Regions from separate parts of the Homo sapiens genome. Here regions 1, 3 and 4 are each linked to region 2. Evidence: fine-mapped expression QTL. A gene starts in region 2. Each other region holds a variant in brackets. All regions are shown on one strand. Distances are between the middles of the regions. Region 1 overlaps KYNU (kynureninase). Region 2 holds the start of KYNU (kynureninase). Region 3 has its middle 38 kb from the start of ARHGAP15. Region 4 has its middle 59 kb from the start of LRP1B.

Evidence for each region.
Region 1: its variant is fine-mapped to the expression of KYNU in whole blood (INTERVAL, PIP above 0.99).
Region 3: its variant is fine-mapped to the expression of KYNU in whole blood (TOPMed, PIP above 0.99).
Region 4: its variant is fine-mapped to the expression of KYNU in coronary artery (GTEx, PIP above 0.99).

What each region holds. Positions count from the first base shown.
Region 1 is chr2:143,029,916-143,038,027 of GRCh38, forward strand. It overlaps KYNU (kynureninase), which reads left to right. Exons shown (of 14, transcript NM_003937.3): 12 at 3,321-3,406. Among named protein-coding and RNA genes, the nearest start is that of ARHGAP15, 95 kb to the right of the region's middle. The variant T/C (reference allele first, on the strand shown) is at 3,309.
Region 2 is chr2:142,873,849-142,881,960 of GRCh38, forward strand. KYNU (kynureninase) reads left to right here and starts at 3,816. Exons shown (of 14, transcript NM_003937.3): 1 at 3,816-3,888.
Region 3 is chr2:143,087,371-143,095,482 of GRCh38, forward strand. It overlaps the pseudogene MTCYBP11, the pseudogene MTND6P11 and the pseudogene MTND5P24. Among named protein-coding and RNA genes, the nearest start is that of ARHGAP15, 38 kb to the right of the region's middle. The variant G/C (reference allele first, on the strand shown) is at 3,591.
Region 4 is chr2:142,185,713-142,193,824 of GRCh38, forward strand. No RefSeq gene overlaps it. Among named protein-coding and RNA genes, the nearest start is that of LRP1B, 59 kb to the left of the region's middle. The variant T/A (reference allele first, on the strand shown) is at 3,992.

The sequences.
Region 1 (8,112 bases), 160 kb after region 2:
AAGGGTCATGTGGCTTGGTCAGGTGCCATCAACATAGAGTGCCTGAAACACTGGGCATGGAGGACAGGAGGAAATTTGGGGCTTGGAGTCAGATCCAGAAAGACCTGGGTGTTAATCACACTTTGCTGCTTAATAGTTTTTTGATCCTGCACAAGTTATATCATCTTGTGTCATTGTTTTTTCTTTCCCACTTATCTAATGTGAATAATAAAATCTATTTAAAGATTTGGTTTTAGGGTTAGTCAAGCTCAAAACAATAAGCCAAGTAGGACACAGCAGTACCTTAATAAATACTCATTTTCACTCCTCTTTTTTCCTATTTTCCTTTTGTGGCTTTTGCCATGTACCAAAGAGTGTAGCAATTCCTGTGAGCAGTTAACCCCAGCAGATAGAAGTGAAACTCTACCATGCAGAGCTTCCTTTTCCTGCATGACCTCATTTCTCAATCACATGGGATGCAGAAAGATCATACGTGCTTTGAGAGTTCAACATAAACTTGATCCTTCAGATTGCTTTAAACCCTGAGATACTGTTTTAAATTTGTTTTCATTTTTTATTGACTTTATTTTTTTGTTTTTGAAACAAGGTCTTGTTCTGTCACCTAGGCCGGAGTACAGTGGTGCGATCAGGCTCAGTTCAGCCTTGATATTCCTGGCTCAAGCAATCTTCTCGCCTTAGCTTCCTAAGTAGCTGGGACTAGAGGTGTGCACCACCATGACTGGATGATGATGATGATGCTGATTATTATTATTATTATTTAGTGGAGATGAGGTCTTGCTATGTTGTCCAAGCTGGCCTGAGATAATATTTTATATATATAGGTGCTCTTTGACTTACAATGGGGTTATTTCCTGATAAGCCCATCATAAGCTGAAAATATCATAAGTAAAAAATGCATTTAATACACCTAATCTATAGAACATCATAGCTTAGCCTAGCCTACCTTAAAACACATTCAAAACACTTACATAGCCTAGAGTTGGGCAAAACCATCTAACACAAATCCTATTTTATAATAAAGCATTGAATATATTATATGATTTATTGAATACTATACTAAAAGTGGAAAACACAATGGGCGTATGGGTAGTCGAAGTATGGCTTCTACTTAAGATGTACTGCTTTTGTATCACTGTAAAATTGAACAATTTTAAGTCAAACCATTGTTAAGTCAGGGACCATTGGTATGCAGATTTGTAGCAACCAAATTGCAAAATGGGATATTCCAGTCAAGTCAGGATACCTGTATTTTACCTTGGCTGCTAAAATAATTAGATCTGTTATTATACCAGTTATTTAAATTCTTTGAGATGGGTTTTCTTATTTGGAAATAAAGGAATTGAATTTGATCAGGGGTAGCAAACTTTTTCTGTGAAAGGCCAGATAGGAAATATTTTAAGCTTTCTAGGCTATACAGTCTCTGTGGCAAATACTCAATTCCGTCATTGTGGTGGTAAAGCAGCCATAGGTGATACATAAGTGAAAGATTGTGGCTATGTTTTCATAAAACTGTATTTTAAAAAGCAGGGCCTGGCACGAAGACTCACGCCTGTAATCCCAGCACTTTGGGAGGCAAGGCAGATGGATCAATTGATCACAGGAGTTTGAGACCAGCCTGGGTGACATAGTGAGACCTTGTCTCTATAAAAACTACAGAAATTAGCCAGGAGTGGTGGTATGCATCTGTAGTCCCAGCTACTTGGGAGCCTGAGGCGGGAAGATCACCTGAGCCCGGGGAGGTCAAGGCTGCAGTGAGCCATGATTGAGCCACTGCACTCAGGCCTGGGTAACAGAGTGATACTCTGTCTCAAAAACAAAAACAAAACTAGTGGGTCAAATTTGGCCCACAGGCCATATGGCCATATATTAGTCTGTTTTCACACTGCTATAAAGATACCACCTGAGACTCAGTAATTTGAAAAGGAAAGAATTTTAATTGACTCACAGTTTCACATGGCTGGGGAAGTCTCAGGAAACTTACAATCATGTCAGAAGGCAAAGGGAAAGCAAGGCACATATGAGGTGATGGGAGGTGAGAGAGAGAGAGAAAGAGAGAGAGTGCATAAAAACTGCTGTTTTTGGCCGGGCGTGGTGGCTCACGCCTGTAATCCCAGCACTTTGGGAGGCCAAGGCGGGCGGATCACGAGGTCAGGAGATCGAGACCACCCTGGCTAACACTGTGAAACCCCATCTCTACTAAAAATACAAAAAAATTAGCTGGGCGTGGTGACAGGCACCCGTAGTCCCAGCTACTCGGAAAGCTGAGGCAGGAGAATGGCGTGAACCCGTGAGGCGGAGGTTTCAGTGAGCCAAGATCGCGCCACTGCATTCCAGCCTGGGCAACAGAGCGAGACTCCATCTCAAAAACAAAAACAAAAAAAAAAAACAAAACAAAAAAAACTGCTGTTTTTAAAACCATCAGATCTTGTGAGAACTCCTTCACTATCATGAGAACGGCATGCAGGAAACTGCCCCCATGATCCATTCACCTCCCATCAGGTCCCACCCTCGACATATGGGGATTACAATTCAAGATGAGATTTGGGTGGGGACTCAGAGCCAAACCATATCACCATAGTTTGCTTAATCCTGGATTTGATAACTATAAAAAAGTCATCAAGTTTTAACATTCTTTTAGTCAGTCATAGTGTTAACTTATCTCTGACTAGCTATCTTAACCCTATTGAATTTAACTTGCTACAGTTCAATCTGCTTAATTCTAATTAGTAGAGCATCTGTTATTAATTTACCTTTTTTATATACTTAGGCAGATCTTTTTTTTAAAGCTCCCTCTATTGTGTGTGTGTGTGTGTGTGTGTGTGTGTGTCTGTGTGTGTTCTGTAAGAGAAACCACTTGACCTAACAATCCTAGAGCTAAAAGTCAGCTTCATAGGTCATTTCATTCATATTTCTGCCTTTGGGAGACATTACAATTACATGCCACTAAAAGCTGATGCTCTCTCTCATTGACATGGTTTCATAATAGAATAGCAAATGTTGAGCAGAATAAGGAATCCTGGCTTGGGAATAGGAAGGCAGAGAATGAGATCCAGAAAAACTTCCAGAAGAGGTCATTTTTACCTTGGGTCTAAGATTTCTGGTGTTCTGCTAAGAAGTTGGGGACAAGGGAGGTGGGAACTGCTGGTAAACGGGAAATAACGTCGATATTTTAGTTCCATGGAGCTTATCTTAAATATCTCAGAAATCCTACTTAGGAAGAAAAGTTTAAGTCTTGCTCTTTTACTCTCCAGTACTCTAGTATCTTTATGGACACTTTTAAAGTTACCTTCTATGATAATGACATGATA[T/C]TAATTTCTCAGAACTGCAGTTAATCCCTGGGGTCTGTGGATTCCGAATTTCAAATCCTCCCATTTTGTTGGTCTGTTCCTTGCATGCTAGTTTAGAGGTAAGTGATGTGTGTTTCAACCTTCCCACATCTTTGCGTTTTTTCTTGATCTGTTTGTGACAATTCATAGTACTTTCTCTGCTACACAGCAAGATGATACATGTGCACTGTGCATGAACAAGGGACAGAAGGCAGCATTCCCCTTTAGGACAGTGATGATGTGGTGAGGGTCTCCCTTCATTCATGTCACCAGCCCCCAGCACAATGCTTGGCACATTGTTGGCACATAGTAAATATTAAATGGAACTCTTTTGGGGAGATACGTTTTTTACTCCACTTAGAATCTGTTTAAACATGAATAAGTTATTTAACCTTCTCTTGGCCTCTCTTTATACCAAATAAGCATGCAATATTTAGTTCTTCATAAATTCGCTCATTCAACATAAATTTATTGAGAAAATATTGTGTGCCTGATGTGATTACTAGGGACTGTACTTTTTCTAGTTCATTGTAGGTGAATGAACTGACCAAGTACCATGTGACAAAGCTAGGAAAGACTTACTTGAAGGAAAAAAGAATAATCAGAGTAAACCAAAGATTAAATAAGGTTGTCTCATAAGGTAGGGTGGTTTTATGATTTTTTTAAATTGGGACTTCTATGCCATTATGTCCATTTATAGTCTCCACTATCACTGACTCAATATTTTCCTTTAAATTAATTTATATTTTTATTTAGGTAAATTTAGTCTCACCCTGAAATGATAAATATACATAACAAGAAAATGAAATTGTGATTCCTTAGATACTATTATTTAGTGTTAGACTAAATGTGGCCAAGTAAAAATATATAGGTTATATAGTATAAAATTCATATATAATGTAAATGTATAAATATTTACATAAATAATGTAAATATATAAAGTAATTGTATATTTTGTATACCTATATTTAAGTAAAATATATTTTAAGTAAATGTGCATATATATTTCTAATAGAAGTTTTACATAGAACTATTCAAACAAGGATTTGAAATTTTTTCATGTCTCCTTCTAAAATCATGTAGTTTATGATATTTTGGCAAAAACTTATAGAGGATTTCAGCATCAAATGAGTGACAGGATGAAGATTCAAAATTCCTTCTAATCTAAAATTGCATAATTCTGTGAACACTTACAGCAGTTTCTCATTCTGGCCACTGGATGGCAGCATCAAGTTCCTCTGTTTTTATTAAATTTCACCACTGGATAGTGATCATCACCTCATTTCATTCTGTCTCAATTTAAAGCGCACCTACTCAGTTTAACCACTAGATGGAGCTTGTGTTGTTTTCACTTCATGGCAGAATTTTTCTTTAACTTGGAAAATAGACACAGTAACGAGATTTTTCAGCCAGTGATATATATTTTTGACAGTTTTTTGAGTAAAAATCTGCTTAGTAAATCAGATAATGATATTTGAGTTGTTTTTATAGTATCCATTCAGATAAATATTTTGTTTAAACATTTTAAAACAAAATAAAGTTTCTGCATTCCTTGCAAGTTTGTATCAGCGAGATGTGTGACAATATCAGAAGCACCAGGACATACCTTAGGAAGAGCTTGTACCTAAAGTAATTTCCTCTGGTGCCCATATCTTTGCAAATAACTTCTCAGACGTACCTGGAAATTTCCTTTTAGACGCCTTCACTTTGGCATACTTTCTGCAGTGGACTGGCTTTTCTAGTAGTATTCACCCTTCTCTTGTGGGAAAGGAAGCACATTCCTATTCTTCCAGCCACTGTTTTCCTACCACACTGTATTAGAGTCACCTAGACAAAGTTTTTATTTTCAGTTATAATCTGAGAACTGATTTATTTTTTCTTTTTAATATCTAAACTTAAACCTCAGCCTCCTGAGTAGCTGGGACTACAGGTGTGCACCGCTACACCAGGCTAATTTTTGTAGTTTTTTGTACAGATAAAGTCTTACTATGTTACCCAGTCAATATCTAAACTTAAAACCCTAAAAGCCACAAGAAGAATGATATGCATTTCTCTGGATCTTCTAATCACTTACATATTTCCCTTGAGCCTCTTTCTGCTCATTTCACTGCTGAGACTATGTTCTAACCAAAATTATCTTTAGTTAATCAAGCCTTATGTTGGTAAAAGTGTTTTTTCAAAATTCTTTCCTACTGTAAATTGCAAAATTTTTGAATTACAAACTAATGCATTGAATTGCTTCCCTTTCTCTGTTAAAATGTCTTATTTTCTAGACATTTATGGGTTTCTCATGTGAGTAAACATCAGTGAATTAACTATGCTTCTATTAATACTTACCTTCCTTTAAGTTTTATTTATTTATATTTAGAGATGAGGTCTTGCTCTGTTGTTCAGACTGGAATGCAATAGTACGATCATGGCTTAGCATGGCCTCAAACTCCTGGGGTTCAAGTGATCCTCCTGCCCCCACCTTCCAGGTAACTGGGACTGCAGGACTGCACCACCACACTTGGCTGATTATTATTATTTATTTATTTTATTTCTTTATTTTTGAGACAGGGTCCCCTTCTGTCACTCCTAGAGTGCAGTGATGGGATCTCAGCTCACTGCAACCTCTGCCTCCTGGACTCAGTTGATCTTCCCACCTCAGCCTCCACAGCAGCTGGGACTACAAGAGTGCACCACCATGCCCGACTAATTTTTGTATTTTTTTATAGAGACAGGATTTTGCCATGTTGCCCAGGCTGATCTTGAACTACTGGCTGCAAGTGGTCCTCCTGAGTAGCTAAGACTACAGGGCATGCCACTGTGCTCAGCTTATTTTTAAATTTTTTTAGAGATGAGGTCTGGCTATGTTGTCCACGTTAATCTGGAACTCCTGGCCTCAAGCGATTCTCCTGCCTCAGTCTCCTGTTTGAAATGTTTGTTTTTCAGTGCTATAAAGAAATAGCACTTGAACGCAAATTTAATTTATTTAGTAAGGCCATTTTTACTTCCTGCAGAGAGGATACACTCGCCAGCAGTTTTGCCATGAGAGTACACCGAACAAAGGAGACAGGGTCATTTATAACCTGACGTGTCCACCCTACTGCTGTGTCCAGTTCCAATGGCTGGAATGGGACCTCCCATTCTGTATTTGTCCCGATTGGCTAGTAACTTAGAACTTTTTAAAAGACGTAAAGGTAGAGGGTAACAAAGGAAGGAGGAAGTAACTTGTGGAATGCTAAGAAAGGTAAAAACACTTTTAAATAAGGAAGAGGAACAGGCTGTGACCTAATGCTGCTTGGACCAGTATAAGCATGCCAGGGCAAATATTTAGGCTAAATTGTGGGAGCTAAAAACATAAAGTATATTGATTTATTTATTACAGCTAGCAGATATTTAAGAATGTTAGCACAGGTCTTTGAATAAATTTTGCTTCTAAGAGAAGTTACTATTTATTCCTAATTAGACGGGAAGGAAAGTCTTTGAAGAGGAACCTCTACTTTACTTTTTATACTCCTAAGCAGTTGGGATGACAGACGTGAACCACTGCACTCAGCCACCTTATCTTTTTAAACCAGTTTATTCCATTTTAGGAGATAGGTGGTTGAAGTTTCAATAAACGAAAGAAGTAAATGCATGAATCAAACTGCCTCTTTGTTGTCTCTACTTTTAAGAAATATTCAACACAGTCAAATACGAACTGGAGGAGAGATTCTATACTTAAGAATCAATCACATATAAATAAGACCTTAGATTTTTAATGCAATGACTTTTTAAAAAGATATTAATATGGCTTTTTTTAATAAATACATGTGTATATGGTTGATTGATATAAAAAATAGCACATTGTAATCAGTTTCAAACTGTCCTTTTGTTTATATTTTTTTATCTGAATCATTTATACAATAGTTCTTAAAATATTGTGGATCAAGGGATGAAGCCTGAGGCCAGGAACCTGGTGGCAAGTACTCTCTCCCTCAATGGACACGAAGTGTGACCTTACACAAGCAACAACTCCCTTTGGATGTATTTGCCTTATTTTTTAAAGTAAGATGTTTGGACAAGATTATTTTGGAAGTCTCCTCACTTTCCAAAATACTTAAATTTAAACAATACGTATATTATATTTTGAGGGTTCATATTTATGTGTAGCGATAGGTAGACAATATTTAGTCCCTTTCAGTATTCTGAATTCATAATGAAATAAATGGCTTCAAAATACAAAGTTAGAGCATTCAATTAAAATACATGGCGAGTCAGAAGACTCAACAAAGAAATGTACTATACGTTTCCTTTCAAATTTCCTAGAGAGACAGTTTTAAGAATTTAAGAGAAAAATATGACAATTGAAAACATCACACCAAACTTATTTTTCCTGTTTAAACTTATCTAGCTTTTCAAGCTTTGTGTTCATTTTGTCAGTAAGAAAAAAAATACAAGTAGTTGAAACTCTGCAAAGTATTATCTTCTAAGCTGAATATTTTTCAAACCACAGTTTTCATTTTTTCTAATTTAAAAAAATTATTTTCTCAATATTGAAAGCATAACATTTATGAGAAGCAAAAAAGAAAATAGAATATTTATGTTACTTCCCTATTATTCTCTCTCAATATTTTTATGTGAAGCTCAGAATAGACTTTTACCCTCTGTGAGATGAATTTAAAAGTGCCTCAGAATGCAGTTGCCCTTATTGTGGTTGTAATGGAGAAAGTAAGTTTTATATTTAAAAGTTATTTTATGATTTAAAGAGTGTTAACATTCCACAGTATATTAAGATGGAAGCTATTTGTCATACCAAAAA
Region 2 (8,112 bases):
AAAACTGAAAATACAACATATAGAGAGGGTAGGAAAGTCCCCGCCCATTACTGAGAAATTTTTCTAATAACCAGACTATGTATCTCACAGGAAGGAAAAAGTAGATTGTCTAAACATAGCCTAGTGATTTATTAGCATATTAATTTGCTTTGCCTTCCCTGTTGTAGGAGGGAGAGGGAGAAGAAAGGAGAGTATGGGTGAGGAAATGAGAGTGCAGTGGAGGGAAGAGAGAAAAAGGGAAAAAGAAAAGGAGAGAGAGAGAGAGAGGAAGAGAAGGCAAGAGGAGGGCATTAGAGAAAGAGGAGAGAAGGCAAGAAGAGGGAAAGAGGAGGGGGCAGCAGGAAAGGAAGGAGAGGGGAAGGAAGGACAGATAAGGGGAGAGGGAAGAAGAGAGGAGAGATAATTTTGTGTGTGCTCTGTTTTTTATATTTTCCCCTACCCATATAGAGAAGATGCTGTAGGTTCCTTGGCAGAAATTGCTTAAGGCAAATCTCATGACTGGCATTTGAGAAAGTTTTTGTTATGTTATATTGGTTATCCCCAAGGGGAAGTTTGGAAAGAGTGATTGGGTGTGCAAGGCCCCAGGGATATGGTGAGGGGAAAGGAGAGGCAGGAGGGCAGAGAGAAGGAAGCTAATCTGCCCCTCCCATCTGGGAACTTCCCAACACCCTGTGTAAAGAAGAAAGGAGAGTTCCAATAATGACTCAGAGTAAATTTTCCTCCTAAGAAGTCACATGTGAGCTCTGCGTTTTTATTTAATTAAGAAAAATAGCGTATTGTGAAATTTTCTGTTTACCCAAGTTTGAGACTGCAGTTTTTTTTATTAGTTCTTTCCTAACTTGTCTCTGTCTTTAATCTCATTACTCATTTCACATACTGAGCACCCAGCATTAGAGTGTTATGATCAGCCTGGTAGTGCAGCCTTGGATTCTTACATAAAGAGTTTGCTGATCTGAATTTAATTTAGTTAATGATCCAGCAAGCACCCATTTTAGTCTACTAAATGCTAGATACTGGCCTAACTATGGCGAAAATGCCCTGAAGAATAAGAATAAAGTTCATGGTTCAAGATTACCTTTTGAGAGGACAAAACTTTCCCATATTTCCAATAATCAATTTTTAGAAAATAAACTAGATCTTAATTAAAAAAAAACAAATTAACCAATTCAGTAGATATTTATTTAGCTCCATACATAGGTAGAGCTCTGAGGAGGATAAAATTAGTCTTTTCCTCTCGGAAACATATCATTTTATAAGCAGGATGCCATACCTGGAAATTAATAGACAACTCGGAATTGTACAACAGCTTATTCTGGCAACACTTTTTTTCTTCCTGTTTCCAAAAGGAAGGAATGGTATCTCACAGTGTTCTCTGTTTAACCTTGACTGCTGGCCCTGTAGCGGGTCTTGCTTTCACCCCTCCCCGCATGACTCGTTCTCTCATAATTCCCTTCTGTATTTAGCGGCCTATGTTATTATACAAGTTTTGCTCCCCATTACATCCCTGGCATTTCACTTTGTGCTTGGTACAGAGAATATGCTTAATACTTTTCTTGAATGAATGAAAGTGTCAACTGAAGAATGACAGGTTCATACATTTGGAAAGGAGAGCTTCATTTCACATAAAGGATTGCAGCCTGCAGGGTGATCATTCTGACCTCTGAAAAGTATAGCCTCTAATCAGAAGCTGGAAACAGACATTTTGAGGGAGGAGCAAAGGAAACAGAAATTTATGTTGAGCAGGGTAGCTGAATATATATATTCAATAAGCTATAGGGGAAGCCATGAATATTTGTGAAAGGAGAAATGTGCACATGCACAATGGAGTTTCATGCTTCTCCATGGGATCCGTGTTCAAAAAATGACAGCATTAATACAATCTGAGGGGGCAGTTTTCAGCCCAATGTGAAGCAGAGGACATGAAAACCTTTACTGCACATTCTCCATAGACTAGCCAGAAACATTCCATGATCAGTATTTTCTTTTTGTTCCAAACCACAAAAGAGAGGGATAACACCAGGTGATGGTTGATGTCATTGGTGTAATCTTTTGAAATGACTGGTTTCTTTTTAGCCATAGGGCAGAAAGCCTAATCATAGTTAGTGATGGAGCGGGTATGTGTTCCACTTCCTATCCTGTCATGGCCAAAAACTTAGTTTTCAAGTTTACTCTGGGATCCCCTTGGCCAAGAGCGTGTCCGTTCAGTTAATCTAGGGGCTTGGGATTTTATTTTTATTCCTCAAATGTAACAAATTTAAAGAAAGAAAGAAATTTATAAAACATAAGAAATAGAAGTATAGCTTAGACCTCCAAGCAAGTTCTTTAAAGGTGACAAGTTAAACAGTAGTTTTTAAGATAATATTTTGATGAAATTTTTAATCATATTATTACAAGATTTTAGAAGAAGCAAGATCTTGTGAAAACAAAACCTTAATGTCCATATCTAGCTCTCTAAATCTATAGTCAGTCTTTAAAAGAGTGACACAAAAATGACACAGATCCGCCCTCTGGTTCGCTCCCCATATATTAGAGCCTGGTAATCTTCCAAAGTTTTTACAGCATGAGGCATACACAGAATAGATGCAAAAAAAGTACACCTTCTGAAATTTCCTGAATGGATTCAAACTTTTACTATTCTAAGTTAATCAATTGGTAGTCTACTTACTTTATAGGATTATTGTAAGGATAGGATCAATGAAGTGAAATATATTTTATTTTCACTGGTCAATTACTCGTATTAAAGCAATTTCATGCACTTTATCTCCCTCTCTTGGAAACTGGAGAGTAGTACTTTTTGTCTGGTTACTTAAGATTAAAAAAAAGACAATATGTCACTTTTGACTTGAGTGTCATGGTATCTATGGCCTTCAACCTGCATGGTTTTATCGTTTCAGTAATCTTGGGAGGAAGGTATTATTAAGTTCATTTGATAAATAGGAGACTGAGCCTCCACAAGGGTTAAGTGAATTGCTCAGGGTTATACAATGAACACTTGATAGAAATGATTAAATGACACTTTACTTGATTTGTTGTGGGTTACTAAATAAAGCATAGGTGTGCATAAGTCATTCAATTATTCAAGCACATTCTTCATCCCTAGTCCTAATATCGAAAGTCTTTGCTCTTAGTTTTTATAACTACAAGGATATTCATCAAAAGACCCAAGCTCAGGAATAAGCCTAAAGAGGTAGTCAGACTAGAACAAAAGACAATTCACAGACTTAAATGAATAATTTGCATTAATGAAGTTTGCCAGGCTAGTTTCCACTTGAATCTTCAGATCTTTCTTCCTTCATTGTCTTGTTAACTGTCCAGATTTATTACCTAGGAGTTTTTGAAAACTCACATATTAGGCAATAGAGTGTATTCTGGAATTGAGAGCCTATTTTAAACTTTTGACTAAAAAGTTTACCCATTAAATGTCATAGATTCAACCATCAGACTGAAAATCCTCAGTGTATTTGAAGGAGGGTATTGTCTCAAAAATCCAGAGCTCAAAGTGAAGAAGAAAGGCAAAATTTGGAATTTAGCTCTAAGACCAACTCATCAGTTCAGGGGTCAGAGATTTATATAGTTAAAGGACAAGTGTGTGTTTACCTGAGTTTAAAGAGCAAAGTTGCCTCTGGAAAGAAGCCCTCACTGGAGGCTCTGGCATTTGAAATGGTGGGCAGGAGCACATGTTGCTTAAATTTCTGACAGTGGCTGGAGATTACCGATTGGTTAGGGGAGAGGAAGTAAAGTAAAATATTTATAAATTCTCCACTGGGTGGAGTCTGAGCAGTTCTTTGAATTTCTCACCCTAAGATCTGGCCTGTACATTTTCAAGGAATTCTTGAGAGGTTCTTGGAGAGATTCTGGGAGCCAAACACTCCATTGGGATCCTAGCTGGTAAGCTTGAGGCGCTGATAAAAACTCTCTACCCTAATGTTTACTCCATGTTTTTTCCAAATGAAACTTCTGTCAGCTAGAATCCTTGTCATAGTGTTTTAGAGGTTTTTTTCTGCTACTCTCTTCTTTTTTTATATATATTCTTTTTGTAAATAAAAATGGTATGACCTTCCTAAAGGCCCCACCTTTAGAAATGGGTTAAATGAAAAGATCTTTACTAATGTAATAGAAAAGAACTGATGAACATAGTGCACTGAATATGGTTACATTTGACAAACCAAAGTTAGTCCTGTTCTTATTTGAGTTTAAGCGGTAAGATTAGGTCAAACTCCAGACGAGGGAAAGATATTCTTAAACAGATTTTAAGTCCTCTGTTTTCTGGTAACTTTAATTGTCTTATGCTGCTAGTAGTCATATTAAATATTTATTTAGAGAAGTGAAAATGCCTACTCTTGAACAGAGTTTCTTCCCCTTTCATTTTATGAAACCTAAGAAAAGAAAGTTGATACACTTTTTAAAAATATACTAGATTTTCTTTTTTCCTTTCTGCTTTTATTTTGAGGCCAGTGGGGTGTTATTTAGTAGTAACACTGAAGCAAATGTATTGATTTTCTTAACGTGTTCAGCAAGTAATTCATATCCTAGATATGAAATATACACTCGTAGCAGAGTAATGTTACCCATTTCTCAATGATATGCTTAAAGAATCTTGCTCAATATGCATATTGTTTTTCCTTTTTTCTTTACTAATGAAAAACTACACGCTTTCTCAACATATTTTTAAGTCAGGTTCTAAACTTTGAACTCCTATGTACAATTTGCTTATTTCAGGCATGAATGTGAAACTGTGTAAAGATTAACTACCAGACACTCAGTCATTTATTTAACTATTTAGCCCTAAATCAGTGGGTGACTAGGAGATTCTGAATTCTGTGATTTCGTTAAAATCAATCAGTTTTTAATTATTATACAAGCTTTTTACTTTAAAGTTGTAGCTGTCTAAATAAAATTGTGAAAGCACAATTTCCAAACCTAAATCGAAGGCACATTGATGCTGTCCATCAGAAGGTATTGATAATTTAAAAAAATATTACAAACTATCTTTTATCTTTTTATAAAGGACCTAATGTCATTTGAGCTTAACCATAATCCTTTGAAGAAAGTAAAATTTAACTTTAAATAACATTGACATACAGAGCAGTTAGGTGATTTGTCTGAGACCATATGGTATGTATGTCCCCCGTCTTGATAAAATTAACACTAAATATGTAACATTTGAAAATTTGTAAAATATGTAAAAGTTGAAGTTTTTAAAAGTTTGGATTTAAGTTCTTCCTTTCAGAATATGAGCATGTCACTTTATTTGCAAACTAAACATGGCATAACATTATGGCTTGTGAACACTAATTGTCTTAGCTGCTGGGGTGAATGCAGAATTAAGCAGCAATTAGTATGAGTGAATAAATTGCATCCTTAGAGTGAGTGCACTATGCTATTCTGGGAACTAAAGACTATATTTGAGACCATGCGAAGTTGTGCAAGTGGTGGAGTAGGGCAGGGTGCAGTCATTTGGAAGACTATGCCCATCAGGTATCTCAAGGTACCCCAGATGTGACAGGCCCAGGAGCGGAACCAGCCACTTTAACTTTTGCCTGGCTGAAACTGGACTGGGAAGGATGGATTAAAAAGGTAAATCAATTCATACGTAGCTTGTGGTCCTTTGCAGCTTAAGTGTAGGACTGAAAAAAGAAGCCAAAGAAAAAGGGAATGAGCTGAAGAAATACACACACGTACACACACACATCAGGAAGCAACAGGCAAGGAAAAATAAAGTGAGAGGTTCAAGGCTTCGAGGAGGAATTGAGCTCTGTGCATTCCATTCATGGGCTTTGCCAAAGACCAGCACAATGGACTCAGCATCTCAGGCATGGTTAAGTACCCTACTGTGCACTCTGCTATCCTTTTAGTCCACTGGTTTCTACTCTGTCTGTGCCAGGTTTTCATCTCAATATAGAGGAAAAGGATTCTGATGCCTCAGGATTATTACAAGCATTAAATAAGATACAGATAGAATGACGCTAATGAGTATCATTTTTAAAATAAGGAAAGTTGAATTTTATTCAGAATCTGTTGGTAACAAACTAATCTCTTTATTTAAGTAACCCCACTTAGAGTTTAAAGTCACCTCCAATCAACTCAAAGGGCTGACCTCCCAAAGAAAGTCTCAAATATAAGGCAAGCTCTCTTGATTCTGAATTTCATTAGAAATGTTTGTCTAAGTCTTTCTCATATGGTCAGAATGAGAGAGGGTGCCCTTCTAGTAATATGTCATTATGTCAAATAATTCATCAACCAATTTTGTTTATTCTCTCGAACTGCCACTTTGGCGGCAGGGGTACTCTGTCTAAATGAGATGTCTATAAAGATAAATTAAACATGATTCAGGCCCCCAGGTAGAGTTCAGTTCAGTAGGGTAGAACAGCAACTCAGTCCAGCTACCATCAGTAATATGTTTGTAGTAAGACTAATCTGATAGTAAGGCAGAAAAACATCTCATGGAATTTTAGGAATAGCCAAGAAGATGGGTCCCCTGGAGACTTGCACATAGCATGTTGCATGAAGGATTCAGTGACTTGCAAGATGGGCTTGTCTTGTCACCTTTTCAGGAGACATAGCTGTTCAATCCCTTGCCATTGTGTAACTAAGTGACTCTTACTTGCTGCTGGAATCACTTCATGCTTTTCATGCTTTAACAATCAGTGGTTCTGTTTTACTTTGAAAAATGAGTCATTCTATGACAGTATTCCTCCTAGACCCTAGCATTTCATAGCTTCTATCTATGATTATTTTAAATTCTAGCTCCTGTATCTAACTGAATGAATAAGCACATCCCACAGCTCAGATTCCTGAAAGAATTTGATTATGTACTCAGCTAAACATCATCACTGTTTGGTTAGAGCTTTTATAGCAAATAATTCACAGATCTTTGATGAAACTACATTGTCTTTAGTGGGTAAGTGTCCAACAGAGGTCTAATAAACTATGACCAGGCAATTGATAATGCCAAGCGGTAGAGACACAGTGATCTCTCTTCAAAATGCAGTTTCCTTCATCAGAAAGCTATGTGTGGGGAGCCATTTAGAATCAAGTTTCAGGCATAGCAAATGTTTTTGATCTTTCCTATCCATACATATGTCCAAATAAATATAGTACCTGGCAGAATGTATTATTATCGTAAGTAAAGTACATAAGTGTGCTCTTAATTGTTATTGGTGTTCAGAGGAAGACGGGCTACTTTTGCCTGAGACATCCTAACAGGCCTCTTGAAAAAAGCATTGGAGCATTAGGTCTTTGAAGGTTGGCTAGAATCCAAACAAGTTGAAGGGGAGCAAAACATTTTAGGCAAAGGAAATGGCATGAGAAAAATCACAGAAATAGAAAATTTCATGTGGAGGACAAATAATACTTATGGTCAGATATTGAAAGCACCATCCATCAATGTTGAAATCCTACACTTTTGTACAGAACCATGGATTGAAGCAGTTAGGAGTCACAACTGATATCAAAGTAAAAAACATGCAATGGTGAACCTTGGTATCTTTGTCTAGGAATATAAAGAATGGCTTATCAGTGGAGACCATCGACAGTTGAGAAAAGAAGAAGCCCAAAAAGTACAAGAATGAAAATCGAGAGTGTAAGAAGAATGTCTGTTTTACTGGCATTATCTAACACTCAGATATGCAACTCTTTATTGCCAAACACTGTGTGTGTTAGTTAAGGTAAAAGGTGAAGGGAGGCAGAAGAATGGAGATTGAATTGAATTCTAGAGCTTTAGTTCTGTGTGAGTTTGGGCCCCCAGAAGTTCTAGACATTAAGTACAGTCTGAATTGAGAAATATTAAACATATCTTGTGATCCAATATTCCCCTAAGTTATACACTCAAATATCCAATGACCAGCTTGACATTTCTACCTGCATGTTCAATACTTATTTGAAACTTAATATATCCTAAATATAATTTTTTTTTAAACAGTCATGCTCTGTTGCCCAGGATGGAGTGCAGTGGCACAATTAGCTCACTGCAACCTCAGACTGCTGGTCTCCTACCCCATCCTCCTCGGTAGCTAGGACCACAGGTGCATGCCAGTGCCAGCACACCTGGCTTTTCTTTTCTTTTTTCTTTTTTTTTTTTTTTTTTTGTAGAGATGACATCTTGCTACGTTG
Region 3 (8,112 bases), 210 kb after region 2:
GGAAAGCTTTGAAAAGAATGTATAGACAGGAAATTAGGGGAAATAGAGTAATCTCACTCCACACAAAACTTTCATCCAATCTACAATAATAAATTATTAATTAACTTAATGTTAAAAATGCAAACAAAAAATATTTTCTACTAGAAGCAATCCCTACCTGACATGCTCATAGGAGTAATTTGCCTACTTTAACCAAAACATTACTTCCTCCTCAATAGCTAAACATACTTTTTAGATTTCATGATTAACCAAAATGAGAATAATTTTTTATAAATGATCTCCTGTTTCATGGCCCTTAAATACCTAGTCCTACTTGATAAACATGAGTAGTCTGGCTTAACCACGTTCCAAAGCCTCATTTTGCTTCTGCTCATTATTTAGCAGCTTTGGTTACATACTTGCTTGTTGTATCTGGTTATAACCCTTTCTACTAATTGGAGAATGAGACACTTGCAACATATTTTAATATCCAGCCAGCATAAGCAATGTGGAAGTGTCTTCTCAGATCTATCATGAGCAAGAGGCCAAAGAGGAAAAAATAAAATTATCTGATAGTACCCACTATTGTTCCCCAACATCTGGGATGGATCCTACATGAGAATTAACTTCTGTTCCTTCCCCAAATTATCGTTCCTTCCTCAAGTTACCATCTGCTTCTGTTACTATAATTCACCGCCTCCTCAATTAAGCTTTGTTTTCTTCAACTTCTATCCTAGGTTGGGGAATTAATTTACTGCTGCTGCTATAACAAATTACTATAAATTTAGTGGCTTAGAACAACACACACTTATTATCTTACAGTTCTGCACGTTGGATGTCTAACATGGGCTTCACTGGGCTAATATCGGGGGGTTGACAGGGCTGAAATAGTTTCTGGAAGATCCAGAGAGGAATCCTTTTCCTTACCTCTTCCAGCTTCTAGAGGCTGCCCACATTTCTTGGCTCATGGCCCCTTTCTCCAGCCAGCAACATTGCATCTGTCTCATTATTGCTCTGGAGTCTCTCATCACAGTTGGGAAAGGTTCTCAGCTTTTAAGGAGCCATATGACTCGATAGACACACAGCGATAATTGAGATTGGGATAATGATATTTCCCAATCTCAAGGTTCTTAACCCTAGTCACACCTGCAAAGTCCCTTTTGCCATGTAAGGTAACATATTTATAGATTCTAGGGATTAGGGCATGGACATTCTGGAGGCCATTATATTGCCTACAATGGTTGGTTTCTGACCATTTCCTCTTTCTCTCCCCCTGAACCGGGGAACTAATTAGGAAATCATTTGCTAATATTAGCCTGTAACTGTCGGTGGATATTTCCAGTCTGATGTAAGCTTATGTAATGGGCAATATCTTCATGTTACTTATATTAACATTATTGCTTCTATTAAATAATAGATTAGTCCAATGTGATGTAAGGAGTTCAGTAGTGTGATTAGAATTTAGGATAGTCAGATGTTGAGCTTGAACGCTTTCTTAATTGGTGGCTGCTTTGGGGTCAACTATTGCGTCTGGAATTGGTGCGTTCTTGGTCTCACTGACTTCAAGAATGAAGCCGCGGACTTTCACGGTGAGTGTTACAGTTCTTAAAGGCAGTGTGTCCGGAGTTTGTTCCTTCTGATATTCAGATGTGTTCAGAGTTTCTTCCTTCTGGTGGGTTCCTGGTCTCACTGGCTCAGGAGTGAAGCTGCAGACCTTCGTGGTGAGTGTTACAGCTCATAAAGGCAGTGTGGACCCAAAGAGTGAGCAACAGCAAGATTTATTGCAAAGAGCAAAAGAACAAACCTTCCACAGTGTGGAAGGGGACCCCAGCGGGTTGCCACTGCTGGCTGGGGCAGCCTGCTTTTATTCTCTTATCTGGCCCCACCCACATCCTGCTGATTGGTCCATTTTACAGAGAGCCGAGTGGTCTGTTTTGACGGGGCACTGATTGGTGCCTTTACAATCCCTGAGCTAGACACAAAGGTTCTCCACGTCCCCACTAGATTAGCTAGATACAGAGCTTCGATTGGTGCATTCACAAACCCTGAGCTAGACACAGGGTGCTGATTGGTGTGTTTACAAATCTTGAGCTAGATACAGAGTGCCGATTGGTGTATTTACAATCCCCTAGCTAGACATAAAGGTTCTCCAAGTCCCCACCAGTCAGGAGCCCAGCTGGCTTCACCCAGTGGATCCTGCACTGGGGTCACAGGTGGAGCTGCCTGCCAGTCCCGTGCCTTGGGCCCGCACTCCTCAGCCCTTGGGTGGTCGATGGGACTGGGTGCGGTGGAGCACAGGGTGGCACTTGTAGGGGAGGCTCCAGCTGCACAGGAGCCCACTCGGGGGGTGTGGGGGGAGTGGTGCGGGGGTGAGAGGCAGTGTGGGACCCACCAAGCCCATGCCCACCTGGAACTCCAGCTGACCCGCAAGTGCTGCACGCAGCCCCGGTTCCCGCTGGCGCCTCTCCCTCCACACCTCCCTGTAAGTTGAGGGAGCCAGCTCTGGCCTTGGCCAGCCCAGAAAGGGGCTCCCACAGTGCAGCGGCAGGCTGAAGGGCTCCTCAAGTGCCGCCAAAGTGGGAGCCCAGGCAGAGGAGGCGCCCAGAGCCAGTGAGGGCTGTGAGGGCTGCCAGCACACTGTCACCTCTCACTATGATGGTAATATTTTTTTACCCTCTGCAGGAAGGTTGTTTCCTAGAGTCTAACGACCTGTCCCTCTTTAGATTAACAGTTAAACTTACAGGGAGATTATGTAATTCTGTGGGAAAGTTTAAAGTTGAACTAAGATTCTGTCTTGGAAAACCAGCTATCACCAGGCTTGGTAGGCTTGTCACCCCTACTCATGAATCTTCCCCCTATTTTGCCACATAGTTGGGTGTGCTCTTTCAGCTGTTCTTGAGTAGCTTGTCTGGTTTGGGGAGACTTGGCTTTGGTTATCTATGTAAAGTTATTTCTAGTTAATACATTATGCAGAAGGTATAAGGGTTGGTCTTTGCTTTTTTATGCTTGTCTTAGTTTTTTCATCTTTCCCTTATGGTACTATGTCTATTGCACAAGGTAAAAATATCTATCACCTATACTTCTGTTTAGGTAAGTGATTTAATTAAGATAATTTGATAATATTTTTAGAGAAGTTTGGGTCTAGAATTGGCTCAAAGAGATCAAGTTGTGATGAAATCTTGTGGTGTAAGCCAGATGCTTTGGGTTAAGTTACACACTTTGATTTTTCCAAGCACACTTTCCAGTATGCTTACCATGTTACAACTTATGTCGTCTATATATGGGTAGAGAGCTTTAGTAGTATTTGTTTCTAGAATAATATTTGAGGATGGTTATGGGTGGCGTGTGTGTGCTTCATGACCCTATTCAACCAAGCACTCAGCTCTTGGTTTACTGCTAAATCCTCTTTGAGCCCTTAGATTTCATAAAGGCTATCATGAGATTTTCTGGGTAAAGAAAATATAGCCTCATAGGCTACACCTTGACCTAACATTTTTATGTGTATACTTGTGCTTACTTTGCAACCTTTCTAGGGTTTGCTGAAGATGGTGGCATATAGGCTGGGGGCAAGAGGTGGTGAGGTGCATCGGGGTTTATCAATTATAGAACAG[G/C]CTCCTCTAGATGGATATAAAGCACTGCCAAGTCCTTTGAGTTTTAACCTGTTGCTTGTAGTATTCTGGTAAATTGTTTTGTTAATTTAACTATTATAGTTTAGGGCTAAGCATAGTTGGGTATCTAATCCCAGTTTGGGTCTTAGTTATTGTGTTTTCAGGATATTAAAGCCACTTTTGTAGTTTATTTTATTTCAGCTGGAGTTTTTTTACAACTTAGATGGAGTTTATCTTTATTGAGGGTAGATCTTAAACACTCTTTATGCCAAGATCTATTAGCTTGGGTTAATCATATAACCACAGTGGCTAGCACGAAATTGACCAACCCTAAGTATTAGTAGAGCTTTTAAACTTTTGCTTATTGCTAAAGATTTATCACTGCTGTTTCCTGTGGGGGTGTGATTGAACAAAGTATTTTGAGGTGCATTTGTGTGTGCTTGATACTTGCTCCTTTTGATTCAGGTGATCTAGAGGGCATCTTCACTGGGATGGGGATGCTTGCATGTGTAATCTTACTAAGAGTTAACAGAAAGACCAGGACCAAACCTTTATGTTTATGGGGTCGTGCAGACCCATCTAGACATTTTCAGTGTCTTGCTTGGAATAATTAAGCTACATTAACTGCATAAATGTTTGAGTATAAAATTAAAATATAAGGGGAAGAAATAGTCATTTACAATTATGGTAATTTAAGTGGTTTAACTTGAATTGGCAGAAGTTTGATTGAGAGGGGTTTTACATTAGGGGTAATTGTTTTAGGCTGTTGTTTATGGGTAGCACTTTCAGAGGGTTATGTTCAAGGTATTATATTAGTACAAGGGTGAAAATTTAGTTATTATATTTGTTATATAAGTAGAGGCTTAATTTAGTAGAAAGATTTTTAAGATTTTTGGGAAACACATCAATCAAAGGGCACCTGTTGGGGTATTCATGATTAAAATATGACTTTTGGACTCTAACTGGGTTTTAGTCTCTTGTTTTTGGGGTTTGGCAAGGGTACACTTACCTAGGTTGATGGTAAAGTCAGGGGTGGGGGAGGGGGAGTTTGTGGATTAAGTTGAAAATAGTTCTTGAAAATAGGCGTACATGATCGTGCCTACATGATCATGCATACGTGATCGTGCATACTTGTCTATTGGTTACTCATTATGTCCTTTAAGCATGAATTAATTAACATCTTATGGTTGTTATGCCAGGTCAGAATATTAAATATAAGCTCAGTTTCTACAACTGGTTTGGCAGAAATCAAATCCGAGTTTGTCTACAGTGATTCAGAGGGGACCAGGCCTTTCGCGATGGTAATAGCATCCCCCAAAGTTAAAAATACCAAATGCATGACAGTGCTCCCCTGACTGGCTAATAGGGTGATAGTCACTAGTCCATTGAGATGTCTTATTTAAGAGGAACGTGTGGTCGATCTTAGTTTTATGGCCCTGAGGTAAGAACCAGATGCCAGGTATAGTTTCAGTATAGTCACCCCCAAGTGTTATGGGCCCGGAGCGAGGAAGGTAGTACTCCCGAGTGGGATGATGATTTCTCGGAGGTTGGTAGATTAAGAGACCAAAATTTGGGAGGGGATATTCATGTTGACAAGGACTTTTTTGACTGAAATGTGCTATGTTCGATGAAAATTTTATGTACTATGTAATATTAAGGATTTTTAGTATGGGTCGATATTCGTATTGACTGGATTTTGTTGTACGATTAATGATAGTGAATGTGCAATAGTTGGAGAGTCATTAATACATGCTTATATGCTTATATGTATGTGGATTGTATTTTTAATGTACCTTGATGTATTAATGTACTATGTACAGTTAAGCAATTATAGTACAACATATTATTCATGGGGGCTAGCAGTAATGCACGAAGTACATAAGAGCACTAATGTGTTAGTGCTAGTTCATTAATACTGGCATGGTAGTTAAAGTGTGTGCTGAAAAAAGTGCAAGGAATAGTTTAATCAGAATTTCAGCTTTGGGTGTTGATGGTGAAGTGGGTATACTTTTTTTCCTGAGTTGTACTGGGGAGGAAATTCTCCATTTCTGGTTTACAAGACCAGAGTATTGAATTATATTACAAGGGCAGTTTCATTTAAGTAGCTTGTTTTCAATTAGGGCAATGATTAGTATAAGGGTGAGGACGGTAAAGAAGTACATAATGGATGCTGTCTGTCTGATGATAATAAAAGGGTAGTTGACTCACTGCCCTCCGATTCATGTGAGTGTGAGCAGGTCAGCACTAAGATTCAGAATAGGCATCGACTTAATGGACAGAATACTATGTTTTGTTGTTTAGATGTGTGAAGTATAGGAATAACTGCTAGAATGAGAATGGAGGATGTAAGGGCGAGCATACCTCCTAGTTTGTTAGGGATGGAAAAGTATCACTCTGGTTTAATGTGGGGTGGGGTATTGAGGGTGTTGGCTAAAGTGTAATTATCCAGGTGGCTCAGGAGATCAGGTGAAAATAGTACTAGGACTATTAGGAGGAGGAGGGGGAGAGTTAGGCCTAGAATATATTTGATTACGTAGTAAGGTTGGAAAGTGATTTTGTCAGGGTCTGATGAGATCCCTGAAGGTTATTATATCCTGTTTCACGTAAGAATAAAAGGAAAACAGTTGTTAGAGCTGCAATGATGAAGGGAAAGATAAAACGGAAGGCTAAAAGTTGTGTAAGCGTGGCTTTGTCAACTGAGAATCCACCTCAGATTCATTATACAAGGTCAGTTTCCATATATGGGATTGCTGATAGTAGATTTGTAATTATTGTAGCACCTCAGAATGATATTTGGCCTCATGGGAGTATGTAACCTATAAATGCTGTTGCTGTGGTTGTGAGTAGGAGGATAATGCCAATATTTCAGGTTTTTAGAAATATAAATGACCCATAATATAAACCTCGGCCAACATGTAGGAAGAGGCAGATGAAAAATATTGAAGCGCCGTTAGCATGAAAATAGCAGATTATTCAGTCATAATTTACATCTCGGCTGATATTGGTGACTGAAGAGAAGGCAGTTAAGGTATCCGATGTGTAGTGTACGGCCAGAAATCATTCTCTGATGATTTGGAGAATTAAGCAGGCACCAATAAGTGAGCCAAAGTTTCATCATGTAGAAATGCTGGATGCTGTGGGAAGATCAATGAATTAATGGTTAATAATTTTTATTAGCGGGTGTGTTTTGCGTATTTTGGTCATTAGCATTCTTACAGTTGAAATACAATGATTTTTTTATACCATTAGTTATGATTATAGTCCGTGTAGGAATAATGGCATATATTTTATTCGTATTAAGTATTCTTTTTCTTATAGGATTTGTAGGTTTTTCTTCGAAACCATCTATTTATGGAGATCTAGGGATGATTATTAGTGGTGCTGTGGGTTGTGGTATTGTGTTGAACTTTGATGGGGCTTTTGTGGGGTTAATAGTGTTTTAAATTTATTTGGGTGGTATAATGGTTGTTTTTTATTATACTGCGGCAATGGCTACTGAGGAATACCCTGAAACATGAGGGTCAACTATTGACATTTGAGGGGCTTTATTATTAGGGTTATTAATAGGGTTGGTGTTGATTCAGTGAATAGTTGAGCATGATGGGATGGTCATCACAATTAATTTTAATAGTATGTGGAGTTGAATAATTTTTGAGGGTGAGGGGGTGGGGTTATTGCATGAGGATTCTGTCAGTGTGGCTGCTTTGTAAAGTTATGGATGTTGATTGCTGGTAGTTGCTGGTTGAACATTGTTTGTTAGTATTTGTGTTGCAAATGAGATTATTCGGGGTAATAGATTAGATAATTTAGAGTTAGAAGGAGTAAAATAAAAAAGGAGAGAAAGTAAAGTTTAATTAGGCCTTTTTGAGTAGATACAGTAATGGTGGCTGATATTTGGGTTTGTGAAATGGTTTTTGGTGTGGACTTTTCTAATCAAATTAGGTCTAGTAGAAGTGAGGCCAGATTTTGGCTTGTAAATAGACTTGAGGTGGGGGGTTGTATGGTGGATTGTGGCTAGTAAAAACCTAATATATTGGAGAAGTTAAATGTCTGTAATGGATAATTTAGCTTAAGGTTGTTAGTTATAAAATTTAGCTCCATTGCTAGTAAGAGGCCTAAGGCAGTCACACCTAGGGCTGTGAGTTTTAGGTGAAGTGGCATAGTTTTTTGGGGGGATGAAGTAGGAGTAATACTATTGGTAATGAGGAATCCAGCTAAGATGCTGCCAATTATTAGATGCTTAATTGAGTTAATTAGGAAGGGGTTATTTTCGTTAATATGAATCAGAGTTGTGAAGTGAGGTTGTCCTATCAGAGCAAAGAAAATAATTCAGGTACTACAGACAGCTGTTAGGGAGGTTACAATAAGAGTAATAGAAAGGGCTCAGGTGTTGGAATATGACATGTTTGCGATTTCGATAATGAGGTCTTTAGAATAAAAGCCTGTGAGGAAAGGCACACCTGTAAGTGTGAGGCTGCCAATAATAAGGGCGGAGGAAGTGAAGGGTAAAGTCTTGAATAGTCCT
Region 4 (8,112 bases), 690 kb before region 2:
CTCACCCCGGAGTTTGTGCAAGGTCACTGGGTATTTAAGCACTTCAGTTTTCTTATCTGTAATGAGGTGGGAGTGATTGATGATCTTTAATGCCCTTTATAGCTATAAAATTACAGACTTATTATTTTTTTTTTGAGACAGAGTTTCGCTATTGTTGCCCAGGCTGGAGTGCAGTGGCATAGTCTCGGCTCACTGCAACCTCCGCCTCCCAGGTTCAAGCGATTCTCATGCCTCAATCTCCCAAGTCGCTGGGATTACAGGTGCCTGCCACCACACTCGGCTAATTTTTGTATTTTTAGTAGAGACAGGGTTTCACCATGTTGGCCAGGCTGGTCTCCAGGGAGACTAAACTTACATTATAACTTCAAAACAAGCAAGAGTGCCAGAGACCAGCAGGGGCTCCCAGCAGTTAGAGGAAACAGTAAATGATTAGTCATTTCCTCTGTTTATGATGCTGTGTCTGCTCAGCTCCATTCAGTGGAAAACAACAGTTGTACCTAGGGACTCATGGTACGTAAGGGGTCAGAAGGAAAAGTCTAGGCAACCACTCTTCACTCCAGACCTTTGAGTAAGACATCCCAAGAGAGACGGTGAAAAGAAACATGGCTCCTTTGCCCCCCAAAATAAAATTAGGCTGGTGATGCTTGATTTCTCTGGATTTATTTCTGTAAGTATCTCTCTTATGTGTTGCAATGAAACTTGTAATGTCCCCATATAGGCATTAATTAAACCATACTATAATTGCCTCTTTTTTCCAATAAGACTGAACTATGTAGGATATGATTTTGTTTTGCCTTGTCCACAATACCTAGCACAATTCTTGACTTGTGACAGGAACTGTATCTATCCTGATATATACATTTATATCTACAGATATTACATATATATTCTAAATTAATATAGATGTATATCCTAAATTGACATATATAAATAATATATATATTTCCTAAATTAGAATTTTTTTACTTTTTATTGACACATTGTAATTACATATTTATGGGGCACAATTTGATATTTTGATACACATATATGTTGTAAAATATTAAAATCAGGGTATTTAGCATGTTCATCACCTCATGCTATCATCCTTTCTTTGTGGTGAGAACATTCAAAAGCCTCTCTTCTAGCTATTTTGAAATACACAGTACCTTACTGTTAAGCATTGTCACCCTACTGTGCAATAGAACACAATAACTTATTCTTCCTATCTTATTGTGACTTTGTACTTGTTGATCAATCTCTCTCCATTTTCCCTTCCCTCCTCTTACCCAGTCTCTGATAAGCACTGTTTTATTCTCTGCTTCTATGATATTAACGTTCCCCCCTCTTTTTTTTTAAGATTTCACATATGAATGATACCATGTGGTATTTGTTTTTCTGTGCCTGGCTTATTTCACTTAACATTATATTCTCCAGATTCATCCATGTTGTTGCAAGTGACAGGATTTAATTCTTTTTTATAGCTGAATAATATTCCATTGTGTATCTAGACCACCTTTTATTTACCCGTGACTCATTGTTGGACACTTAGGTCGATTCTATACTTTGGCATTTGTGAATACCACTGCAGTAAACATGTAATAAACATTTTTAAATGATTCTGTAACCCACCTCATTAGTTGGTGATAAGTTTTCTTTTCAAATTTCCCTGAAAAGTTTTATTTTGTATATGACAAAAATCAATCCATAAAGTAAAAAACAAAACAAAACAAACAAAAACTCTTAAATTATAATTTCATGTATGCTTAATATAAATTCCAGAAAATGTTTCTGAAAGCCATCTACCAAGTAATAATCAACCCAACAACAAAGTTTAAAAAAATTCACTGAATTCTATTGAGTGTCTCTGGGTTTCTATTTAATGTAACTCAAAAACTGTTAGTTTAAAAAGAAAAGTCTGCAGTTAGAAGAGGCAAAAAGTACATTAAAAGCTGTCTCTAATTATTACCTAAGTAGATAAAACTGAGCTCCTTCTGTGATCAAATATAAACTAGGAAAGGTAAAATTAGTTGTGTTACCCTACCCAGGATTACACAACCATAAAACAAACAACCAATTAACCAATTTATCATACATCAAATCAATTACCTGTGGGAGAGAATGATTAAGTGTTTCTACAAGAAAAATGTAAAATCATGAAATTATTGACTATTAGCTCTTGGCAAGAATTTATAATCATCATATAGTCAAGTGAATATAAAAACATGTTTTAGGCTGGGCACTATGGCTCATGCCTATAATCCCAGCACTTTGGGAGGCCAAGGTGGGCAGATCACCTGAGGTCAGGAGTACAAGACCCTGCCTGGCCAACAGCGTGAAACCCCGTCTCTACTAAAAACACAAAAATTAGCCTGGCATGGTGGTGGGCACCTGTAATCCCAGCTACTCGGGAGGCTGAGGCAGGAGAATTGCTTGAACGTAGGAGGTGGATGTTGCAGTGAGCCGAGATCATGCCATTGTACTCCAGCCTGGGTGACAGAGCGAGACTCCATCTCAAAATAAAACAAAACAAAACAAACAAACAAACAAACAGAAAACAACAACAAAACAACGTTTTAACACTGAATTATTTTTTCTTTTTTAATTAAATGTTCCTGTTACTGAATGATTGTTTGGTTGACTAAAAATGCTCCAATTTTCAAATTTATTTTCTTATTTTTGTATTATTACTCAAAGGTATATTGAACTGCCAAATAGATGGGTTTTAATCCCTCTTCTATACTCCTGTATCACCTGGGACATATGTCTGCTAAAGTCCTGAAGACACTTAATAATTTTTGGTTTACTTGCGTGTTTATCCACACAAGCTTTTTGAGCAAAGCTGTGTTTTCTACATCTCTGTATTCTTAGCATCTAGGTAATCTGGCCATCTATGTGCTCAATAAAAATTGAAATTGAAAATAAAATAAAATAGATGTTAAACACAATTATAGGAGGCCATTGTCTTGGACTGAGCTCTTGCACTGCGATCTTGCACCAGACCCCATCAGACCAGATCAAACCAAAATGGAGTCACTCATGCTAAATGTCACATAAGCAAACTGCAACTTTTAGGAAGCAAATAGATCCCAAACAGCACAGTTTTTCCTGAGAACAGCAGATTCCAGTCTACATGACTCAGCATCATAAGGAAGATCCCTCTGTTTTAACCCTTACCAAAAACTAACTCAAGTAACCTAGTGTTAACCAATCAACTATTTTCCTTTGTTCTGTTTCTTTCTCACCTTACAAAATCCACTCTTCTGTGATTTCCCAGTGAGAGTTCACATTCTGTTTTGTAGGATGTAGCTGTCTTGATTCATAAATTGCAAATAAAATCCAATTCGATCCATAACTAAATTTGTTATAATTTTATCTTTTAATATGAGGTTAGCACACATAATTCACTATAATTCCAAATTAAAACAAACATAATTACCATTTTAGTAAATTTAGGCATATATATATATATATATACACACACACAAACGTACACATGATTCCACTAGACTAATAGTCCTTAAATTATGCTGTGTATGAGGATTACCCATGGAGTTGAATAAACATATAAATTTCTAGTACTTGCTAAGGTATTCTGACTTAGTAAGACCAAAGTACAGCCAAAAAAGTTGAATTTTTTAAGGAAACATCTTAAGTTATCAATATATTAACCATGTTTAGGAAATACCACAGTAGACTTCTTAATATGTTGAAGTAGCTCATAGACGCACAGTGTTACTTTCACGAGAGCGTACCCCAATTGGGAGCCACTAATCTAAGCCAACCCAGAGATAAAGCAACCAGAATGAAAAGAGTTCCTAAAAAGTAAGAGGCAGAGTCCAATTTTAAAATCTGGTAGCAACACTTGAGTTCCTAGAGGATAAACCCAAAGATGCATACAATGAGTAATTCAACTTTAAGCCTCCCATTTTAAGATTATGAGAAGATCCTTATTTATACAAAGAATAAATGTCTTAGGTTAGATGGAAGAATGTCATTGCTGTGTAGAAGA[T/A]GAAATATGTGTGGAAGAATGCATGTAGTCATTGAAAAGCAAATAAATGCACTGTGGTAGATATAGGTCCAAAACTGCCTTTCCTACACCTCTGGGGCCTGATGAACTTCAGAATTCAGAGTGTTTCAGATTTTAAAAAGGTACTATAATGCAAATACCTTTAGAAGAAAATGAACGTGGAACTGGCCTACAGTTTATTCCCTCTATCATTAAGGATGGAGGATTTGGGGAAATCATCAAGACAAAAAACTGTCAAATCTTCTTGTAAACATATGAATTATGAATGTCTTTGGTAACACGCTAATGGCATTTGTTTGTGTTAGAATAATCATTTATGCAATACTTTCACTATGATGAACCTGGTTGTCTACGATTGATTATGGTACATAAATCTAGAATATATAGATTTATTGGTAAAGTTCCCTGGACGATATCACATAAGCGATTTAGCTTATTTTACATTAGACATGTTTTATAATTTAAATGTATAACTGCACACATGTTTAAAGGATATGACAACCTAGGTCCAGAATATATAAAATGGTAAGAAAAGAAGTAAGTAGCTACATTGGAGCTCCCAGACAACTCTCTGATTTTCCTTTGCCTTGCATTCCTTCTATTATTGAAGTTATTAGTAAAGATTGGTGTCAGGTAAGATGATATTGGTTAAGATTTCCAGTGCATGTAAGTCTGATTTGACAATCTGATATTTGACATTCTGATACTTGGTGTAATTTCTACTGTATAGTTCATAACACCCTCAGAGGGTCAGGTCACCTTGTATTCAAATAACTTGATATTTATGCAGAGAATCATATAAATATTCACATGTAGTAGGATAAATGAAGATAAAACACAGCCTCACAATCAGCTCAGAAAGATTTTAATATCAAATTAGTGCATATCAGTGCAATTTACAAAGTAAGTTATTTTTAAAAAATCTTTTAGATTCAGAGTTGTTTTCTTTAACATTTTGGGGCAAGGGGTAAAAGTTTAAGGAACACTACTTGGCCTAGCTCTCTCAATCTCTCTATTACACTTTCCTTTTACTTTGCCCATATTCCCTTCTAGCTAACAGTTGTATGCAAACTTTCGAGTCAGAAGCAAAGCAGTGGCCTTATTCCTGTTGGTGACTGCAGCAAAGCAATGTCAGACAGAAGAGAGGGTTGGCATGCTTACACTCTGCATGCCAATGCAAGACATCAGCTCTAGGGGTTTGAAAGCCTGTGGCAGTGATATCTAAGCCAGCAGCAGTAGAGCTTCCTGACCTCTACATCACAGCTATGGCAGTATGACCTTGAAATTAGTAGTCCGGTTGTAACTCCCCTGATTCCAACTCCTCCAGCTCCTCTGATTTTTGAAACCCTTAATCAGTAAATCTCTCCCTGCTTGAATTCCAAGAGTGCTTTCTGTTTCCTGGTCTGAATCATGACTGATACAGCATTTGGTAGCAGTGATTTGAGAAATGCAGCTTTTCAAAACATTATATCCTGAGCATATGTATTTTATGACAATTTGTGATGCAGTTTGTTTGAATCTTAAGCGTAAATAGAGGTACCACTCTCCACCCAAGGAAAGCTATTGGCAGCATAAGTAGGTACAAATGTCTTTCTTTTCCTTACAATTCATTATCTTTTAACTTACTTTCATATGTGGATCATGCTGTGGGAAACAAATACGATCATTATCAGTAACAAATAAAATCTTCTTTATGAAAGAGATTTTTTTCCTATGCCTGGCAATTTTTTCTTATTATATGCTCTTCTGCTTATATAGTTGCATTTCCTTGGATAGCTTTAAGGTTACTATAAACAGATATCTCACTGATAATGACAATGGCAGCCTTGAAATTCCAAGCCATTTCTAGCAATTCATCTTGAAGCAGCATTTTAGTTCTCTTTTCGTTGATTATCTTCATGTTATACTATTAGGTCCAGGGGCTTAGTCATTTTTTTATTACTTTGACTAGAAAATAGACACTTAGATATTTGTAAAAAGTTCTATATTGTTGAATTATGGCAAGTACACTATCCACCCAAGCAATGCAAATTACAACCATGTGCACTGTTTCTTATTTTTGCAATGTTATAGGAGAGCTGACTTATTTTTCACCTACTAATGAATGGTACCCTCAAGGATCTGGAAACAGTTAACATATTTTTTTTTAATTTTAAAATACAAAACTTGAGGAAATAATAGGTACATGGTAGAGTGTTACATTTGTTAAAATTGAAGAACGGGTATAACCTAGTATAGTGGCTGTTTTCAAACTCCCTACTACCCTCCTACTCCTGGTAGAACTAGTCTTCTGGAAACATCTTGGAGAAAAAGACATAGTATAAGAATCTGAGAGACTTACAGTAAAGGTAAGTATATTCTTAAAACTGAAATAACACCAAATATATTCATTTGTGTTTTAATTAATGTTCCATTTTCATTTTGGAATTCTTTTAGGTCATGTCTTTTTTATTGGTTGGGAGAACAAGAGTTCAGAAAATGTTAGTATTGTAAGATATTTTAACAGTTGCCATTTAATTGATATAGGAGAGTAATTACTTTTCCTCCCATAAAACATTAATGTAAAAATGAAAAAGGAAAAAGTATATATCTCAGAGAAATTAAGAACATGGGTTTTTAAAACATTTTTCCTTGAATCTTAATGTTAACTCTAAAGCTATCTTGAACATTTCAATAGTAATTTTCTCTTAAAATAAAAACATCAAGAAACTAATATCTAATTCAAGTAAAAAGACAGTTAATCAAAACTCAGAACAGGGTTGCTGTACTGACAAGCTACAGAGAGCTTTCAGATCTCAAGGTATCCCAGTAAAAATCACATTCCCATTTGATTTTTATATTTTTGGTTTGGCACACATAAAGGGAGTTTATGTCCATTGTACATGATCTACGTAGTTCATTCAAAAAGTTCTAGCAAAATAGAAGTATAAATTACCATTTGCCTTATCAATATAATAAAATAAAATTGTTATTGGATTACAGATTGTTTATAGCTGGCTATTTTATATTGTTTATAATATTTCATGGGCTAAAAATGATTAAGTGATGACTACATTCCATTTATTTTATTTTATTTTATTTTTATTTTTATTTTTTACCCAAGACTCAACAAAATAGTTCTTGGTTAAGCTTTTGGATTTTTGCCAATTGTATTGGTAAAAGATGGTATCTTGGTATAGTTTTAGTTTGCATTTTTAAAATTATAAGTGATGTCAACCATCTTTTTAAAATATTTTTAATGGCATTAGCATTTATTTTTATTTATATATATTTTTATTATACTTTAAGTTCTAGGGTACATGTGCACAACGTGCAGTTTTGCTATATATGTATACATGTGCCATGTTGGTGTGCTGCACCCATTAACTCATCATTTACATTAGGTATATATCCTAATGCTATCCCTGCCCCCTTCCTACATTCCATTTATTTTGGGAGAAAGATTTACAATATTATTAGAGTTTTTTTTTTTTTAACCCCTGCCTTTTTTTTTTAACTATTATTTGCTAGGCTGACATAAACAATTTTATACAAAGTTTACTCTCTTATATAATATTATACAGGGATTATGCATTGGCTTTAAACACTGAATTTGTGCAGAATTTTAGGGACCAACTTAATGTGATAAGCTTTCTTGAGGGGATTGACTTTGCATAATATGGTTCTTTTTTGGTCTTGCACCATTTTGTAAATTGTGGGTTCAGAAACAGGTCCAAATTAAAAGTGAAGCCTAGTAGTATATTTTAATGAGTGTGTGGACTGAATGTTATCAACTTAGGATGCAGACATTTTAGTTAGGGAGTAGTTCTATTTTACTTGATCTCTTGGCTGATAATTTCATTTTATTCAAGGACAATCTTAGGACACTATAAACAATATATAGTAGTAAATGTATGCTCCTTAATCCCTCCAATCCCTGATACTCATTATTCCTTGTCCTTGTTTGTTTTATACAGGGTGCATATGATCATCTGGCACAGTATTTTTAAATATAGTTTCTCATTTATTTTGTTATTTGTTGATTGTTGAGTGTCCAGTTGACTACAATTAGAATGCAACCTCTATGAGGACAGAGTTTCATTTGTTTTGTTAACTGCTATAAC